Linked DNA regions of Homo sapiens: region 2 is linked to region 1. Evidence: fine-mapped expression QTL. A gene starts in region 1. The other region holds a variant in brackets. All regions are shown on one strand. Distances are from middle to middle.

Evidence for each region.
Region 2: its variant is fine-mapped to the expression of SLC9A3 in substantia nigra (GTEx, PIP 0.98).

What each region holds. Positions count from the first base shown.
Region 1 is chr5:519,661-527,973 of GRCh38, reverse strand. It overlaps SLC9A3 (solute carrier family 9 member A3), which reads left to right and starts at 3,525. Exons shown (of 17, transcript NM_004174.4): 1 at 3,525-3,862. The coding sequence starts at 3,652. LOC107986395 (a long non-coding RNA gene) reads right to left here and starts at 3,316. Exons shown (of 2, transcript XR_001742543.1): 1 at 3,011-3,316; 2 at 519-1,562. RefSeq lists an enhancer at 1,326-1,958.
Region 2 is chr5:487,741-496,053 of GRCh38, reverse strand. It overlaps SLC9A3 (solute carrier family 9 member A3), which reads left to right. Exons shown (of 17, transcript NM_004174.4): 2 at 3,983-4,285; 3 at 7,578-7,738. Among named protein-coding and RNA genes, the nearest start is that of SLC9A3-AS1, 19 kb to the right of the region's middle. RefSeq lists an enhancer at 1-112. The variant C/A (reference allele first, on the strand shown) is at 3,247.

The DNA of each region.
Region 1 (8,313 bases):
CTGTCCATCTCTGAAGAAGAGGAAAGGTCCCACCTGAGGCCTCAGAGGCCACCCGGGAAGGGAAGGGCTGAGCTCTAATCTGCTTTTGAGAAAGACATTTGTATCCCCCGGATCCAACAACCAATAAGAGTGGCATTGACGGGAGGTGGCATGACGGGGGGGCGCGGTGGTCTCTTTCCTGGAAGGGCATCTCCCAGAGGGGCCTCTTGCCTGAAGCTGAGATGTGCCTGGCACACAGCAGGTGTGGACCAAGGGAAGGCCAGCAGGTGTGGCTCCCAGTGGAATAAAACCTTCCTTAAGAAGACCTGGCCCCTGACAACTTTGGGTTGAAAAATAAACTTAGAGTGGGCAGTGATGCCTGTCTCCTGCCTGGCTTCAAGCATTGGAAGTTACTTAAAAACTTAACTTTCTTCTCTTAAATATTGTTAACAACAGTATGAATGGATGCGCCTCTTCATCCACAAGACACTTTCACAAGCCGTATGTGGAATTCATGACAGGAAATTAATGTGACAGACTAGGTGTTTTCAGTTTTATTTTCTTAATCCTGAAGTTCAGATGCTGTGGCAGCTGGGTATAAGATTACAGTTGTTTTCCGACTGGCTTTTGCATTATTTCCACATTTTTGAATGTTTTACAGCCACGCCCCTTCCCCATACGTGCAGGGGGTCCCTGGACCACAAGGGGTCCAGGCCACGGTGGAAGGATCCAGAATGCTATGCGTGCCTGCCTGAGGCAGGAAGTGGTCGGGCAGTTATCAGATCGTCACCACCCACAGGACAGGAATGTTCTCAGGATACTTCCCAAGACCCCCTCACACACACACACAAGTCTCTGGGTCTTTTTGGCCATGAGGATGTGCAGGTTGTGCACTGTACAATTCCAAGGGGCACGGTTCATACAGTCTGCCTGATATGGATGGTGGCCCCTGCAGTGGTGGGGTGCCACGGCCCTGCCTAAAACCACGACCCAGTTAGAGGGAGGGTTTTGTGGCTCCAGTCCGAGGGTAGGGGAGTGGGTGTGCACACCCTGTATAATCCCCTAGACTGGCTTCTGCATGAGGCTGGCATCCTCAAGGCCATGCCCATCACAGGCTGGGGCAGCGCCCGTCTGCCCCGAGCCCTCCAGCAACCTTGGAGTGCAGACGCATTTCATCCTCCAAATGCTCACAGATTGAGATGCTGCCAAACAGCCACACTTCTCACCTGTGCAGGGACTCGTGGGCAGTGGGGTGTGCCCTGGCAGGACTCGTGGGCAGTGGGGTGTGCCTTGTTCTGGCCACGCCACTTCAGGGGCTCATTGCCTTTCTATTCTCCATGAGGCAGCCCTTCCTGCTGTGGGGGGCAGTGGAGGTGTGGGCAGCACACTACCTGATGGCCAGCGCCTGGCACTGGTGTCTGTTCTGGATTTGTCCTTCCAGGCAGTGACACTGCTCTTCTGCCCTTTGAACAGCTTTGTGGAGAAAGGTTGTCGGCTCTTAGGACAGGCTGGTTGGGGGGTGGGGTGGCCGGAGGTCCAGTGGGCATCATGGAACACACTGGTCTGGTGGAAATTTGGCCTTCCTGTGGAATGCAAGGGCAACATCTTCAGAGAGGACGTCGTTCCTAACGGCTCCACCCAGGAACCATAAGGAAAGAGCAGGGAAGCTCCGGACTGGAGGGAATCCTGTTCTTGTCCTGCTGGCTTTTTCTCTGGGACAAGAGGCTGGGAGTGGAGTGGGGGACAGAGACAGGTGGGGCAGGGACACAGGCCAAGAGCGACTCCGATGCTCCCACCTCGCAAGACCATACTAGTGGCCAGTCACACACTTCCACTCCCCCGGTGCCCTGTCCAGACCCTGCAGTGGCCCAGGCCAGGGCTGCCCTCCCTCCACGCCACTCAGCAGCCGAGTCACCAGGCGAGCACCATCTGAATGCACCTTCCCTGTGCTACACGGGCCACTTCCATTAGCATGAAACTGGGGCCCTTGCAGGGTGAAGTCATTGAACTCAGCACTGTCCTCCTCAGGCCTCCGCAGCCCCCACTCAGATGTCAGAAGACACATCCATCCTCCATCTGCACCCACCCCACCGCCCACCTGCCCTTTGTCCACCTATCTGTCCTTCCATCCATCTATCATCCATCCGCTCAGCCACTATCTTGCGAGTGCTATTGTGTGCCCAGCTATCTTCCAAGCTCCTGGGATGTATGCATGAGCCCCTTGCTCGTGGAGCAGACATTCCCAGGGTGAGGGCAGACAGCTCAAGGTCAAAGCCAGCAGCCCCCAGGGCTGGGAGGTGAGCTGATTCCCGGAGCCAACCGAGTAAGCAGGGGAGGCGGGAGCTTAGCTGCCACAGTTGTGAGCTGAGTGGGTATCGGGTGGGACCAGAAGGTGGCATTGGAGCCAAGCCCCTGGGGAGCTGAGGAAGGGAGCACACAAGAGCCGTCCAAACAGAGGGAGCAGGGCGTGCAAAGGCCCCGAGAGGCGCCGATTGCTGGTGTGGGCCGTGGAGTGCATGGGGGTGGGGGTCAGGCAGTGGCTGGGGTCTGAGCTCCCGGGAGACGTTGAGCCTTTCCTCTGAGAGGGAGGGTCCCAATAGGAGGGACTGAAGGGGCAGGTAGAGGGCCGAGCAGGAGCCTTTGCAGGTGGCTGCAGGCTCCCAGAAGCCGCTGGTTTTGTGCACATTTTGAAAGTAGAGCAGATATGCTAAGAGCTTGGAAACCTTGTGAGCGAAAGAAGTCCACCTGCGTCCCAGGTCTGGGGCTGGAAGGCTGCAGGGTGGGCTTGGAGGAAAACAGGGGTGTGGTTTGCACAGTGGAGCCTGAGATGCTTAAGAGAGCCAGTGCTGCCGGAGCGGGCTGTGGGCAGAGGCCCCGCATCCGTGTGAAGCCCTGGGGGTATCGAATTGTTTTGGGCGGAGGTCTAAAGGCAGGGGATGGGGCAGGGGAGACCACGGGGGCCCCTGGGCTCCCATCTCAGAGCCTGGGGTGGGGGATGCTGGCTGGCGATGGGAGGGGCAGAGAGACTTACCAGCGCACCACGCAAGGCCTGGGCGCCCCCGAGTTCTGGTAAGTGGCCGGTCCGGCTGTGGAATGCAGGTTCCTGCTGAAGACAATAGCGAGGGGCTGTGTGAAGACACACCTGGGGCCCCTGTGCACCCTTGGGCCGCCCTGTGGGGTCTGCGCAGCCCCAGGCCCTGCGTTTATGAAGGAGGGTTGGGGCGAGCGCACCCACAGCTGCCCGGGCATCCCAGGAGCTGCGCGGAACCGCCTGTCCCGCTGCCCCGCGCTGTGCTCCCCACGCCCCAGGAAGGCGGCCGCGCAGTCCCGGGCTCGCTCTTGCCGCGACCTCCCGGACCTCCAGGCCGCGGGCTCCGGGGGAGGGTGGGCACCAGGGAGCGCGGGGTGGGCGTGCGCGGGCGGGGCGGGCGTGCCGGGAGCTGCGGCGGTGTCTGCGCTCGCGAGTGCGCGGCGGGGGCGGGCAGGCTCCGCCCCGGGGCGGGAGGGGGCCGCGGGATTAAAGGCCACCCCGGCGGGCGGGGATCGGACTGTAGCCGGTACCGGCACCGGAGCGCGCCGGGTCCTCGCCGGGTCCCAGCCCCGCGCGTCGGCCCAGCCCAGCCGGGACCCCCCGCGACATGCGCGTCCCAGCCCTGCGCTGAGCAGGCGGCAATGTGGGGACTCGGGGCCCGGGGCCCCGACCGGGGGCTGCTGCTGGCGCTGGCGCTGGGCGGGCTGGCGCGGGCCGGGGGCGTCGAGGTGGAGCCCGGCGGCGCGCACGGCGAGAGCGGGGGCTTCCAGGTGGTCACCTTCGAGTGGGCCCACGTGCAGGATCCCTACGTCATCGCGCTCTGGATCCTCGTGGCCAGCTTGGCCAAGATCGGTAAGTGGCCCCGGGGTCTCCGGATCTGCCCGCGGGGTGTGCGGCCGCCTCTGCTGGGCCTGGGGGCTTCGTTGTGGCCGCGCGCATCAGGTCGGAGCCGCGCGGCGGCCGCCCGGGAGAGTCCGGCTCTCGGGTCCAGCAGAGCGAGACTCGGGAGCGACTCTGGCCGCGCTAAGCCGCCCCTGCGGGTCCCGAGGTCTCCCCTCCCCGGCGGGGGCACAGCCTCGGAGCCCCGGACTCCCGGCTCCCGGGTCCCTGTGGGGTCTCCGCCCCGCCTCCGCTCCGAGCCCCGCAGACTGCAGGCTGCTCGCGCCCAGGGAGTCCCCGGGGCCGGGTTTCCTTCGGGGTTCTCAGGCTTTTTAGAGAAACGTCCTTGGAGTGATGGCGTTTTTTCGTGAGTTACAAGGGCAGAAAAGAAAAGCGGTGCTACCCGCATGAAACCCAGCAGAATCCTCCCTACAGGCGCAGCGTTCCCATTGGCGGGCCTCCTTTTTTTTTTTTTTTTTTAGAAAATCCCGGTCGGTCAGATTTCTCTTCTTCTTAACCGGCGCCAATGAACCAGTAATGTGGGCACGGCAGGTAGCTCCTGGCAAGGTGACAGGAAGGTCAGCTTCCTGAGGAGCTCGTGGGGATCAAAGTTTCATGTGTTGGTCCACAGGGTAGGGTCTCTCCAGGGGTGGCAGGGAGGTGGTCACTCGTGTGGAGGGGGGATTAGGGGGCCCGAGTGGGGCCAGGAGAAGCAAGATCAGAGCAGCAGGCGCCGCGGCAGGTTTCCAGAGCAGCTTTGGACTGGGGCGAGAGGAGGTTTCGATGCTGGGGCCGAGGAGGGGCGCCCACGCAGGACAGGGGAGGGACAGGCTCCGGGGAGAACAGCTGAGAGGACCTTGGCCTTGGTGGAACCTGGTACGCCCAGCAGGCTTGATTGGAGAAGGCGCCTTTTCCTTCAGTGACGCCTGCCGCCTGCCCTATTTATGCCAGGGTCTCCCCTCCCCTTCAGGCCCCTTGTGTGTTTGCTTTCTGTCTCATAAGGGCTCTTCTGAGCCCTCCCGCCTCCTCCCTTCTCCGCAGCCTCCTCCTCGCCCTGGTGTCTTTCAGCTCCCCGCCGGGCTGCCTGCTCTCCAGGCTCAGGCTGTCCTCCCTGGGCTTTCCACTGGGGGCTTGGGATGCTGGCCGGGGGGGAGTCTCTGAGGCTGGCTGCCTCCTACAGTTGATTTCCTTGAGAAGGGCCCCTGGGGCATCAGGGAGGTCCAGACTCAACCTGGGCTCTGCGGCCGCCCAGTCCTAAAGCTCACCCTGCTTTCCTCTGACGGGAGTGCCCCCCTGGTGTAAACTGAAAAGGTAATTTCTTTTTTTTTCTTTTTTTTTTTTTTTTGAGATAGAATTTTGCTCTTGTTGCCCAGGCTGGAGTGCAATGACGCGATCTCGGCTCACTGCAACCTCCACATCCTGCCTCAGCCTCCCGAGTAGCTGGGATTACAGGCATGAGCCACCACGCCCAGCTAATTTGTATTTTTAGTACAGACAGGGTTTCTCCATGTTGGTCAGGCTGGTCTTGAACTCCAGACCTCAGGTGATCCACCCGCCTCGGCCTCCCAAAGTGCTGGGATGACAGGCGTGAGCCACCGCGCCCGGCCGTGAATATCTAATTTCTGTACAAGCTGGGGCCTCTCCCAGTTTAGCCCAGTGTACAGAGTCAGAATCTGGCATCTGAAGGTCCAATGACAGCCGCCAGGCACCAGCCAGCCCCGCCTGGGAGCCGGCAGATAAGGCACACTGACCAGGGCTTTGCCTGGCCTCAGAGTTTGTTATTCACAGGGAAAAGCCTTCAGGTCTCCCAAACACTTGGACTGGTTCTGGGAAGACGTCCTTGAGGGCGGGGAGGCTGCCGGCTCCAGCAGCAACTCCCCGGGGCAGGGCGGTCCTTTACAAAGGCCCACCCTGATAGCACTCAGCGGCTGTCTTTGTCTCGGATTGTTGGCTCCACCTGGGAAGGCGAGCCTTACCCTGTGCAGCTGTGGGAGCTCATCGCGGTATCCCACAGGCGCAGACCCTCTCCAGACCTGCCCTTTACGCTCCCTGTCGTCCCCTCAACCCACTGTGCACTCTGCAGCCCCGGCAGTGACAGCTGAGGTCTGCTCTGGGTCTGCCCGGATTGGCCCCCAGGGTGTCCCACCCTCCATCCCCTCTCTGCCAGCCACACCTCTTGAACACAGCCCCCAGCCCTCCCTGTGTGCTTCCTCCCCCAACCCCTTCCCTGTGAACTCTGGACTTCTCAGATTCCACTGGCCCAGACCGTCCTCCTTGTGCAGCCAGCCTCAGGTGCACGACCTGTGTTCCCAGAGGACCCTCAGGTCCAGGCCTTCACAGACACCGGGGCCCAAGCCTGCACCACAGCGGGAACTTCTCCAGTTTCACCCAGCCTCCTCCACATGCCCACAGCCCCCGGACTGGGGTCTGAACCTACTAAGCTGCTTGGCACATTTTGTTGTTTAAAATGGTCAGGGGTTGGCCACACTCTTTCAGTCTCAAGTTACACGAACAGAAATGTCTCTTCCAGCAGAAAAGAGCTGCCATTCCTGTTGCTTTTCCAAACATTTGTTGAATTTCTCACACATCCTGAGAGTTTCTAACTCACAGCCCCAGCCTTCTTCAAGCCATTTGTAACCTGGTTGGGGAAATAAGAGTCCGGGTACCCTGAAACCCACAGCAATGTTGATCCCAGGAGATTTCTACTCCAGGCAGCTTGGGACAGAGGATGGCCAGAGGGCCAGAGCTGCCTCAAGCAAACACTGGGGCTGGGGCCTCAGCAGGTGGCCCAGGAGCCTGGGCAAGGAACAGGTGCTGCTGTTGGCCCACCAGCCTCAGGCCGCGTGTCTGGCTCCGGCAAGGGCTCCCCACAAGCCCCCTATTTGTGTGCACTGGGGTTCCCCTGCCTTTTACAGCATCTTTTTAAAATGCAGAAGGGGAGGCAAGGGCCGAGGCCACGGAGCCACTCCACAGCGCAGACCTCCCAGACTGAGAGGACGAGGAAGTCTTTAGCAGTGGAGGCGGCAGGGCCTAGTGTCTGCCTCAGGCAGGGTGAGGGGGCTTCCTCCTGTGCCCCTTGGGGGCCCCCAGCCTGCAGCCACCCGCACCAGGGCCACTCTAGGCCTTAGGTGCCCACCAGAATCCCCGCCTCACCCTGCACCGTCCGTGTTGGGAACCCTGGGCCAGGCTTTCCTTCCTTCCTGGGCTTCCTCTGGGGGCTGAGGCTGTGCCTTGCAGAGACTGCCAGGCCTGGCAGCACTGGGTGGGGGCCCTGGGGTGGGATCCAGGCAGTGGCAGGTGTCAGGACTGCAAGCAATGGGCCCCTGGAAGGAGAGGGAGGCGGGGGTGTCAGAAGCCAGAGGAGGAGGCCTAGGGTGGGTCCCTGGGGAGGCAGAGGGAGGCCCGAGCAACTCAGCTACAGGCCTTGGAGGACTTTGGTCCCCACCTAGCGTCGTGGTGAGGAGTGGATGTGGTCAGATCTGAGTTCTCAGACGACTGCCTGGCCATGGGGCAGAGAATGGCACCGGGGAGATTCCGGGAGGATGGTGGGGAGCTTCCCTTGGGCATCAGGGCGGTGGACAGCAGGGCCTCCTTGAAGCAGGAGTGGGGATGTCACAGGGTCATCAGTGACACAGCAGGGGCCAGACCTCCTGGCCCCATCCTGTTCTCAACCCTTCGGGGGGCTCTGCTGCGCTGACCTCGCCCTGCAGCTCTGAGCCACACATGAGCGACAGGACCCGACCAAAAGGGAACTGGGGGAGTTACAATTTTGAGATGTCGGAAACCGGGGAGGGGCTGGGGCCGGGAGTGGATTCTAGGCCCAGCTGGGTCTATTTGTCCCCAGGCGTCTGGCCGTGGGTACCCCTTGGGTCGTGGACGCACAGGAGGTGTGGGAGCTGACATCCCATGGGGCCTGAACTCCAGAGCTGGGCAGCGCTGGCTCAGGGAGGTGGCGCCTTGAGGGTTAGGACCTGAGCAGCGGCAGTGACTGCCCACGGGGAAACCAGGACAGTGGGGCTGGGTGGGGGCGGTGGGGGCAGGCTCTCGAAGTGGAGCTTGTGTTGCTGAGGGATGTGATGGCGGAGGCCCAGGCCGCCCCACATCTTGGTGAACCCTGGCTGGAAGGGCAGGCAGGAGCGAGACGGGTATCTGGAGTCTGCAGTGCCTCGCGCAGCCGTAGGAGGGTCAGGAGGACGCTAGGGCACAGGGTCAGGAGTGCAGCCCCCTGCTCTGAGCGGCGCAGCCCCCCCACCCCCCTCTGAGCGGCGTTACCCCCACTGTGGGAGTGTGGGAATGCTTTTCTGCAGGAGCTTCAGCCTTGGGGTTCCAGCACCTCCTCCTTAACTGGACAGGGTCAAGACCCAGATCCCTGAGCGCCAGGTTCCCTGCTCCCGGCCCCAAATCTGAGGCACTGGGTGCTTCCT
Region 2 (8,313 bases), 32 kb after region 1:
GAGTGTTTGGTCTGAAGCCAGCCTGTCCCTCACCCACCAGTGTCCCAGTTAACAGGCTTTTACAGTAACCAGCGGCCTCACTGGAGCGTGGGGAGGGTCGGCGATGGCGCGGGGAGTGGAGCGTGGGGAGGGTCGGCGATGGCGCGGGGAGTGGAGCGTGGGGAGGGTCGGCGATGGCGCGGGGAGTGGAGCGTGGGGAGGGTCGGCGATGGCGCGGGGAGTGGAGCGTGGGGAGGGTCGGCGATGGCGCGGGGAGTGGAGCGTGGGGAGGGTCGGCGATGGCGCGGGGAGTGGAGCGTGGGGAGGGTCGGCGATGGCGCGGGGAGTGGAGCGTGGGGAGGGTCGGCGATGGCGCGGGGAGTGGAGCGTGGGGAGGGTCGGCGATGGCGCGGGGAGTGGAGCGTGGGGAGGGTCGGCGATGGCGCGGGGAGTGGAGCGTGGGGAGGGTCGGCGATGGCGCGGGGAGTGGAGCGTGGGGAGGGTCGGCGATGGCGCGGGGAGTGGAGCGTGGGGAGGGTCGGCGATGGCGCGGGGAGTGGAGCGTGGGGAGGGTCGGCGATGGCGCGGGGAGTGGAGCGTGGGGAGGGTCGGCGATGGCGCGGGGAGTGGAGCGTGGGGAGGGTCGGCGATGGCGCGGGGAGTGGAGCGTGGGGAGGGTCGGCGATGGCGCGGGGAGCACTGTGAGTCCCCAGGGCACAGAGTTGCGTTGTTGTTTTTAAAGACAAAGCTGGTCCCTGTGTCCCTGTGTCCCTGACTTGCTGGCCCGCGGTTGTCTGGGGTGGCTTCACAACGGTGGTGATCGCTGTGAACCTAATTTTGGAAGACTGTGGCTGAAAGACCCTAACCCTCAACAAAAAGACCCCGGGCCAAGTGTCGGCAGCCACCAAGGGTGAGGGCGTCCAGGAGCTCCGAGACTCCCGCTGCTTCCCAGGTCTGACCTGCGGCCACGGCGCCCCCCCACCTGGGGACACGCGGTCTCTGTGGTCGCTGGATTTTATCCTCAAAGCAGCCCACGTGCCGGCGGGCACCGAGGGGCCACACGTGCCCCGCTGGCTGCTCCACAAGCGCTATTGGACAAATACCATCTCCCAGGTCTTGTGACCCTGAAAAGAGGAGGACAGGTGAGCCGATTACCCCTCCAGGAGCCAGCCTGGGACGTGGGCAGAGGCAAAGAACGTGCATCGTGTAGAAAACAGCGGCCTGGGTGGGTCTTGCCAGCGGCTGGGCAGCCTCCAGGGGGTCACCATCACCACGGCTGTGCCCGGCTTTGCTAGGCACTCGTCGCCAGCAGCAGAGGTGACGACGTCGCCAAGGACAGATGTGAGAGGCGCGGGTCAGCCTGCGGGTGGGCAGGCGCCGGCACCGGGCACAGACCACCCTGGTCTTCCTAACACAGCTTGGGACACCAAGGCGGGGATTTACAGCCCTCAGGAAGAAAGGAAGGAAGTGGTAAACTCCACTTCTCTCTGGACATTATTAAAAAAATCAGGAGGCTGCAGAGGTGGGAACACCTGCCCCAGGCCTTCCTGCACCATAGGGACCCCCAGCAGGACTCCCAAAGGCCTCGGAGCCCTTAGTGTGCAGACTCCCATGCCAGCCTAGAACCTGCTGAGTCCCGGCTGTGGAGGGGGTCCCAGGCTGCCCTGAGCAGAGGCCACAGCCTTCCCCTCGCAGGCCCGGAAGGCCACCCATGTCTCTTCCCAAAGCTCTGCGAGGCCAGGTCTGTCCCTGGCCACCACAGGGACCAGGCCGTGGAGCCCAGAGAAGAGGGGCCCCTGTTTTCCTGCTGGGCTGCCAGCCCCGTGAGCCCAGATCTGGGGAGGGCGCTGCTGAGGACGGGGCTGTCGGGGCACGCGTTAGGGTCCCAGGACTTCTCACGTGCATCACAGCCACTCCCAGCTGGGGAGCACCTTCTAGAGAAGGGAGAGCTGTGGGGAGAGAGCAAGGTCAACCCTACGGATGCTCTCCTGCTGAAAGCTGGAGCAGACGGGACCCTGCAGGCCAGCTCTGAGCGGGGCCCCGAGGACTCCAGGGAGCTCACCCTCCGTGTTCCCCAGGGACAGCCTCCCTCCCTCATTCCAGGCCAGGCCCTCCCTCATTGCAGGCCATGCCCTCCCCTGGTTTGGTTATCACTGTCGCGTGGTTCCAGCCTCCCCGGGCCAACCCCCGCTGCCCTGCCTGACAGGTGTGGAGCTCAGATCTGTGCAGGATGTGCAGCCCGGAGTGGGGGAGCCGTCGGGGGGCTCAGAGAGCCTGTGGGGCACATGGTGGGGACGGGGCCCACAGCAGGACCTCCCATCCTGAAAGCAGGAGCCTCTGAACCCCGATCCCTCCCGGGGCTGGTGTTTTGGAATCTGGAGCAGCAGGCAGAGCCGCTGTCCTGGGGACAGGGTCGGGAGACCGCAGTGCAGTGCTGGTGGCCGGGCAGGTGCGGAGCTTGTGCCTGCCACCCTCCCTAGAGGGGCCCATGCCACCCGTGGTATTTGGTGTAAGACCATCCTCGGGGAAGGAACGGCAAATCCAGAACAGCACCTCCCTCCTCTGGGCCAGCACCCGGCCCTGCAAGAGCTCCGTAATTACAAGGGAGAAAACAGGCAGGGAGGGCCGAGCTCGTCAGGGCCACGCAGTCGGGAAGGGTGGGACGTGGCCACTGCCTCCACCGCCCCTCCAGCTGTGCTGACACATTCTTCGGGGGCGGGTGGTGTGGAGGGAGCCTCCCCGCTCCCGCTGCTCTGTGCTTAAATGGGGTCTTGGCCATCTCAGGAGACAACTTTCCTTTGAATTTCAAAGAAGACTTAATAACCAGCAGCTGAGGGAATGAAGAAGCTCATTATCCCTTACATCACCGAAGCCGGAGGACGCACCTCATTTGTCAGGCTTCCCGCTATTTTGAAATCAGGCCGAGCGCAGGAATTCTCATCACCTTTTTTTTTTTTTCTGAGTCCAACTAAAACACAGGAGACATGGCCCAGATAGGTTGGTGCCTGCACCCCCACCCACAGGGCCGGGCAGAGCCTCTGAGGTCCTGGCAGGGGCGATGGTGCTGGGGGACGGGGTGAAGCTCCACGGGGGGTCCCCAGGACCTGCTGTCCACCCTTAAGCTCACCCGTGCGGAGTGGAGTGGCGGGACCCAGAGACTCTTCCTAGAACACCCCACCCAGGGGCCGTGATCCCAGGAGAGGGGCACGAGGAGAGGGGGCCACAGCCTCCATGGGGCCCCTCCGGAGGGGTCTGAAACACAGCCAG[C/A]CTCAAGTGGGAGCAGGCTCTGGCCACAACGTCAGGGACAGGGTGAGCTCAGACCTTGGTCACCAAGGCAAAAGGCACAGAGCGAGTTGGGGGTCCGGGGGACCAGAACCAGCCGGGCGGTGGGGCGGCAGGTCAGAGGCCCCCCCCCGACCACCGTCCATCCAGCACGGGCCTCCACCCCATAGCACCGGCTCCCTCCTCCAACTGACTCCCTTCTGGGGGCTCCAGCAGCTGCCCCTGCACTCTCCTCGTTCCCAGCCCTCTTGGGCTCCCTGAAAAGTCGGGGGAGGTCTTAGATGCCTGCAGCTCTGAGCCCTGTGGGACCTGATCACCTGGACCTCCCTCCCCTCCCCCGAGGGCTCTGCCCTGACCTCCCTCCCCTCCCCCGCAGGTCCCACCCCGACCTCCCTCCCCTCCCCTGTGGGTTCCCCCCTACCTCCCTCCCCTCCCCCATGGGCTCCCCCCACCTACCTGCCCTCTCCCAAGGCCCCACCCTGACCTCCCTCCTCTGCCGCACGGGTCCCACCCCGACCTCCCTCCCCTCCCCTGTGAGTCCCCACACCTTCCTCCCTTCCTCCACGAGTCCCCGCTGACCTCCCTCCCCAACAGGCCCTGCCCCGACATCCCTCCCCTCCCCCACGAGTCCCCACACCTCCCTCCCCTCCCTCACAGCCCGGCCCTGACCTCCCTCCCCTCCCTCACAGCCCGGCCCTGACCTCCCTCCCTTCCCCCACAGGGTTCCACCTGTCCCACAAGGTCACCAGCGTGGTTCCCGAGAGCGCCCTGCTCATCGTGCTGGGCCTGGTGCTGGGCGGCATCGTCTGGGCGGCCGACCACATCGCGTCCTTCACACTGACGCCCACCGTCTTCTTCTTCTACCTGCTGCCCCCCATCGTGCTGGACGCCGGCTACTTCATGCCCAACCGCCTCTTCTTCGGCAACCTGGGGACCATCCTGTTGTACGCCGTCGTGGGTACCGTGTGGAACGCGGCCACCACCGGGCTGTCCCTCTACGGCGTCTTCCTCAGTGGGCTCATGGGTGAGTCTGCGCCACTGTTGCCCCGGCCGGGATCAGGGTGGGGTCCGGGAGGGGCGGCGCTGCCTCATCTCAGAAAGGTCGGGGTGCCGCACCCTGGCCTCCAGGCGGTAAGTGTCAGGTGAGAAACGTGGCTGGCAGCCCCGTAGGCCCTCGTGACCAAGGCCAGTCCCCTGCGCGTCCCCAGGTCCCAGCACGTGTTCTGCTTGGGGAGGAGTTCCCATCTCGGCAGCTCGGCTTGGGGGCTGCAGGTGGCCAGGGGCTGCCGCTCTTCCTCCGGCACTGGGCAGAGGTAGGGGTCCGTCCACACTCGCCGGCCACCAGGTCCCAGGGAGAGGAGGAGGACTGCAGAGCCTGGTGTATCGGGCACCGTCCCTCCCAGCCTGTGTGCCGGAGCCGCTCGGCCACCGCTGCAGCCACAGCCGGAGCCAGAACTGCTGCGCGGTTTTGGTCTTGGATGCTTCATCTCTCGGGCACTGCCTCCCGCCCCGGACCCAGACCACGCGTGGCTGGCGCCTCTCAACATGCCAGGTGCGGTGCAGCCCTGATGCCCGCCGCTGCTGCCGGGGATGCTACAGCTTTGACCAGGTGGGTCCAGGGACCTCAGGCAGAGCCTAGCTTTGACCAGCTGGGCCCCACGGCTGAGCGCAGGCCTCCGGCACCTGCCGCCCTCACCGGTCTGAGAACTCAGCCTCAAACAAATCCACCAGCTGAACCAGACTCACAAGAATTGGCGATTTTCCGTCTGGTTCAAGAGAGAGCACGGCCCGGCCTCTCCATGGGAATCAAGGGGCTGAAACCTGAGACCAAGGAGACGCATGGAGAAAGAGGAGCTCCCGGGTTGGGGCCGCCTCACCCAGCACGTGGTTCCTTGGCGCCTTCTCACCCCTCCCTGTAGTCCCTGCCGTCCAGCATCACCCACCAGGTGCAGCCCAGGGAAAGCTGCCGAGGGCACAGACAGGCTCATGGATGGCAGGCCCGTCACGTGGGCGATGCCATAGGTGGTCAGGACACACCTCGGATGGGGCAGCCGCCCTAGCCACCGCACCCAAGGGAAAGCCTCAGGGGTTGTAGCAGAGACTCCTGGACCCGCGGCCCCTCGAGGCTCACACCTACCTTGCCAGATGGCCCCTCGCCCATGAGATCCCAGCTTCCTCCCAGCTGTGTCGAGTGTGGGATGGAGTAGCCTGTGATCAGTCTGGCCGTCAGGGCCGCTCCTTTGAGAGCCGGGCACACTCCGTGGCTCTGTGGCCACGTCACAATGGTCCCCGCCTAGCATTGGCCAGAGACACTGCCGGATTTCCCTTGCACGAAGCAGAATGTCCTCGGTGCAACTGGCCGAGCCTGGAGGACGTCCTTGCTGCACCTGCACCATGAAGCCCTGGAGGACTCCCCACACCAGGACGTCACCCCTGGCCCTCCCCTGCCCCTCGCCACGCTGCACTCCACCCCTGCCCCTCGCCACGCTGGACTCTACCGTCCTCCAACAACGCTCCTCATGAGAAACACGTGTCCCAGGTATCGCTGTGCCCCCTGGGGCAGGCCGCTCCCCAGGTGACACGGATGCTGGAGGCCTGCGCTCAGCCTTGGGGCCCAGCTGGTCAAAGCTGGGTGCTGCCTGAGGTTCTGGAACAGAGATGCCCATGGCCGGCAGGTCCATCCCATTCCTGGGAGTCCAAGAGAGCTGGGAGGCTGCAACTGATCTCTGCAGACCAGAGGCCAAGCCCTGTGGAGCGTCTCAAGGCCAAACGTGCCCCATGGGAAAGGGTCGACATGGCAGTGCTGGCCCGGGGGCTGTCCGGGCAGTGTGGGGACAGGCCCTGCGAGAGCTTCAGGCATCAGAGGCCCTTGCACAGGCAAAGCACGTGGTGGAGAAAGGCCTGGAACATGCGGTCTGGTGGCATGAGCCCTCCTGGCACGGCCGTGGGCAACTGTCCAGACGGGAAGGCTGCCGGCCGGGGAGTCTGAACGCGGCCGACCCCAGGACATCCATGGGGGCCATCACTGCCCTGGGGGCGGCCGTGCCAGGAGGCCGCGTTTAAAGATGACCTTGAAGGGGATTCGTGTCCTGAGGCCTGAGTTTGGAAGAGGAGAAGGCTTGTGTGGTTCCCGTTCCAACATGGAACTTTAACTCCCTGAACGCTGGTTCTTCTGGCATCTGTCACTTCCTCGGGGTGTTGTGACACTGGCCAGAGGCTGCTGGGGCTTAGGAGCTCACAGCAAACTCGGGGTTTAGTCACCGCAGAGATGACCCTGATCTGTCCCCTCCCAGGCGCCAGCACAGAAACCCCTGGCCAGGCTGCTCTCTGCTGTCTCCTGGGGCCCGTCCGGCTCCAGGGACAAACCCCTCCTCAGCCCGAGCCTCAGCCCAGAGGGGTGGTGGGCTCCGCTCCAGCCCAGCAGAGAGGCAGCAGCTGTGCGGGGGGACTCGTCGGGGGCCTCCCCCTCCCTGGGTGGTCTCTCCCACACCCTCACGGCCCTGGCGTCTCCTGGTCCCTGGACCCTCACGGCCGGGAAGGCAGCAAGGAGGCCCAGTGTCCTCTGAGCCCTGCGGCCGTGAGAGAGGGCAGACTCTCGGGGCCACGTGGCCACACTCAGTTCCCTGAGGGTCCCCTGGAGCCTGGCACCCCCACGTGGCCTCCTCGAGGCCTGAACCCTGGGTTGAATGGCAAAGACTTGTGAAGGATAAGGCTGCATTTCAGTAAAACCTCCCCAGCGAGGGGCACCAGAGCCCACAGGCAGATGCGGGGAGGGAAGCCGGCCGGGAGCTAGGGACCACATGGACCCACGTCTTCCGGGCCCCCTTGCTCCCACCGCAGCCCTGCTCATCCCCACAATCTGCCCCCACACCCCCAACGGCCCTCCCACCTGCCCCTCCCTGGCCGCGCCCCTGGGTGCTGTGTGTCCCGGCTCCGGGCCCGTCCTGGGTCAGCCCCACTTGCTTCTCCTGGGCTGGGACGCCACTCCAGGCGATGGGCCCCCATCCCTCCCCAGCATGCGGTGCCCCTGCACCCACCTGCCTCCGTTCACCCAAAGATGAAGGAGAGGGCCAGGGCCAGGGTCAGTCTGTCTGTCTGTCTTGCTCAGATGGGGTGGCCCCCTCGGAAGACAGCAGCCTTCCCTGGAGGGGGCTGGGGGTCTGTGGGAGGGACGCAGGAAGCTGACCCAGCTCCCCACGCCACCGGCGCCAGCCAGACGGGCTCCGAACCCCGACCCGTAGGCGAGCGCCTCCCCAGGGCCCTCCTCCTCGGGTGGCAGGCCCTGCAGCTGCCCCGCGGCCCGGCTTGTCTTCCAGGCGACCTGCAGATTGGGCTGCTGGACTTCCTCCTGTTTGGCAGCCTCATGGCGGCTGTGGACCCGGTGGCCGTCCTGGCCGTGTTTGAGGAGGTCCATGTCAACGAGGTCCTGTTCATCATCGTCTTCGGGGAGTCGCTGCTGAACGACGCAGTCACCGTGGTGAGCAACGGAGCCACCGCTCCAGAGCGGGCGAGCCGTGGGAGGCCTGGGCCCCGTCTCACCCCCCATCGGTCAGTCAGCAAAGGAGGGCGTGAAACCCTGTCCTCAAACTCCCCTCCCGGGGGCGTCCCGTCCCTCCACCTCCTTCCTCCCAGCTCAGAACGACTGGCAGCTTTCGCGAGGCTTCTTTGTATCTTCCACAGTTCCCAGGCCCTGCCCGCCCACTCCATAGCTTCAGGGTTAATGATGGCGCTGTTGAAATCCCGCCCTCCTGGTCCCCAGAGCGTCTGTGACTTTGGACCCACAGTTACTGCCACCCATTCCTGAGTTCCTAAAAAATACATGAGTGGCCGGGTGCGGTGGCTCACGCCTGTAATCCCAGCACTTTGGGAGGCCGAGGCAGGTGGATCACCTGAGGTCAGCAGTTCGAGACCAGCCTGGCCAACATGGTGAAACCCCGTCTCTACTAAAAATACAAAAATTAGCCAGGGGTGGTGGCACGCGCCTGTAATCCCAGCTACTGGGGAGGCTGAGACAGGAGAATCACCTGAAACCAGGAGGCAGAGGTTGCAATG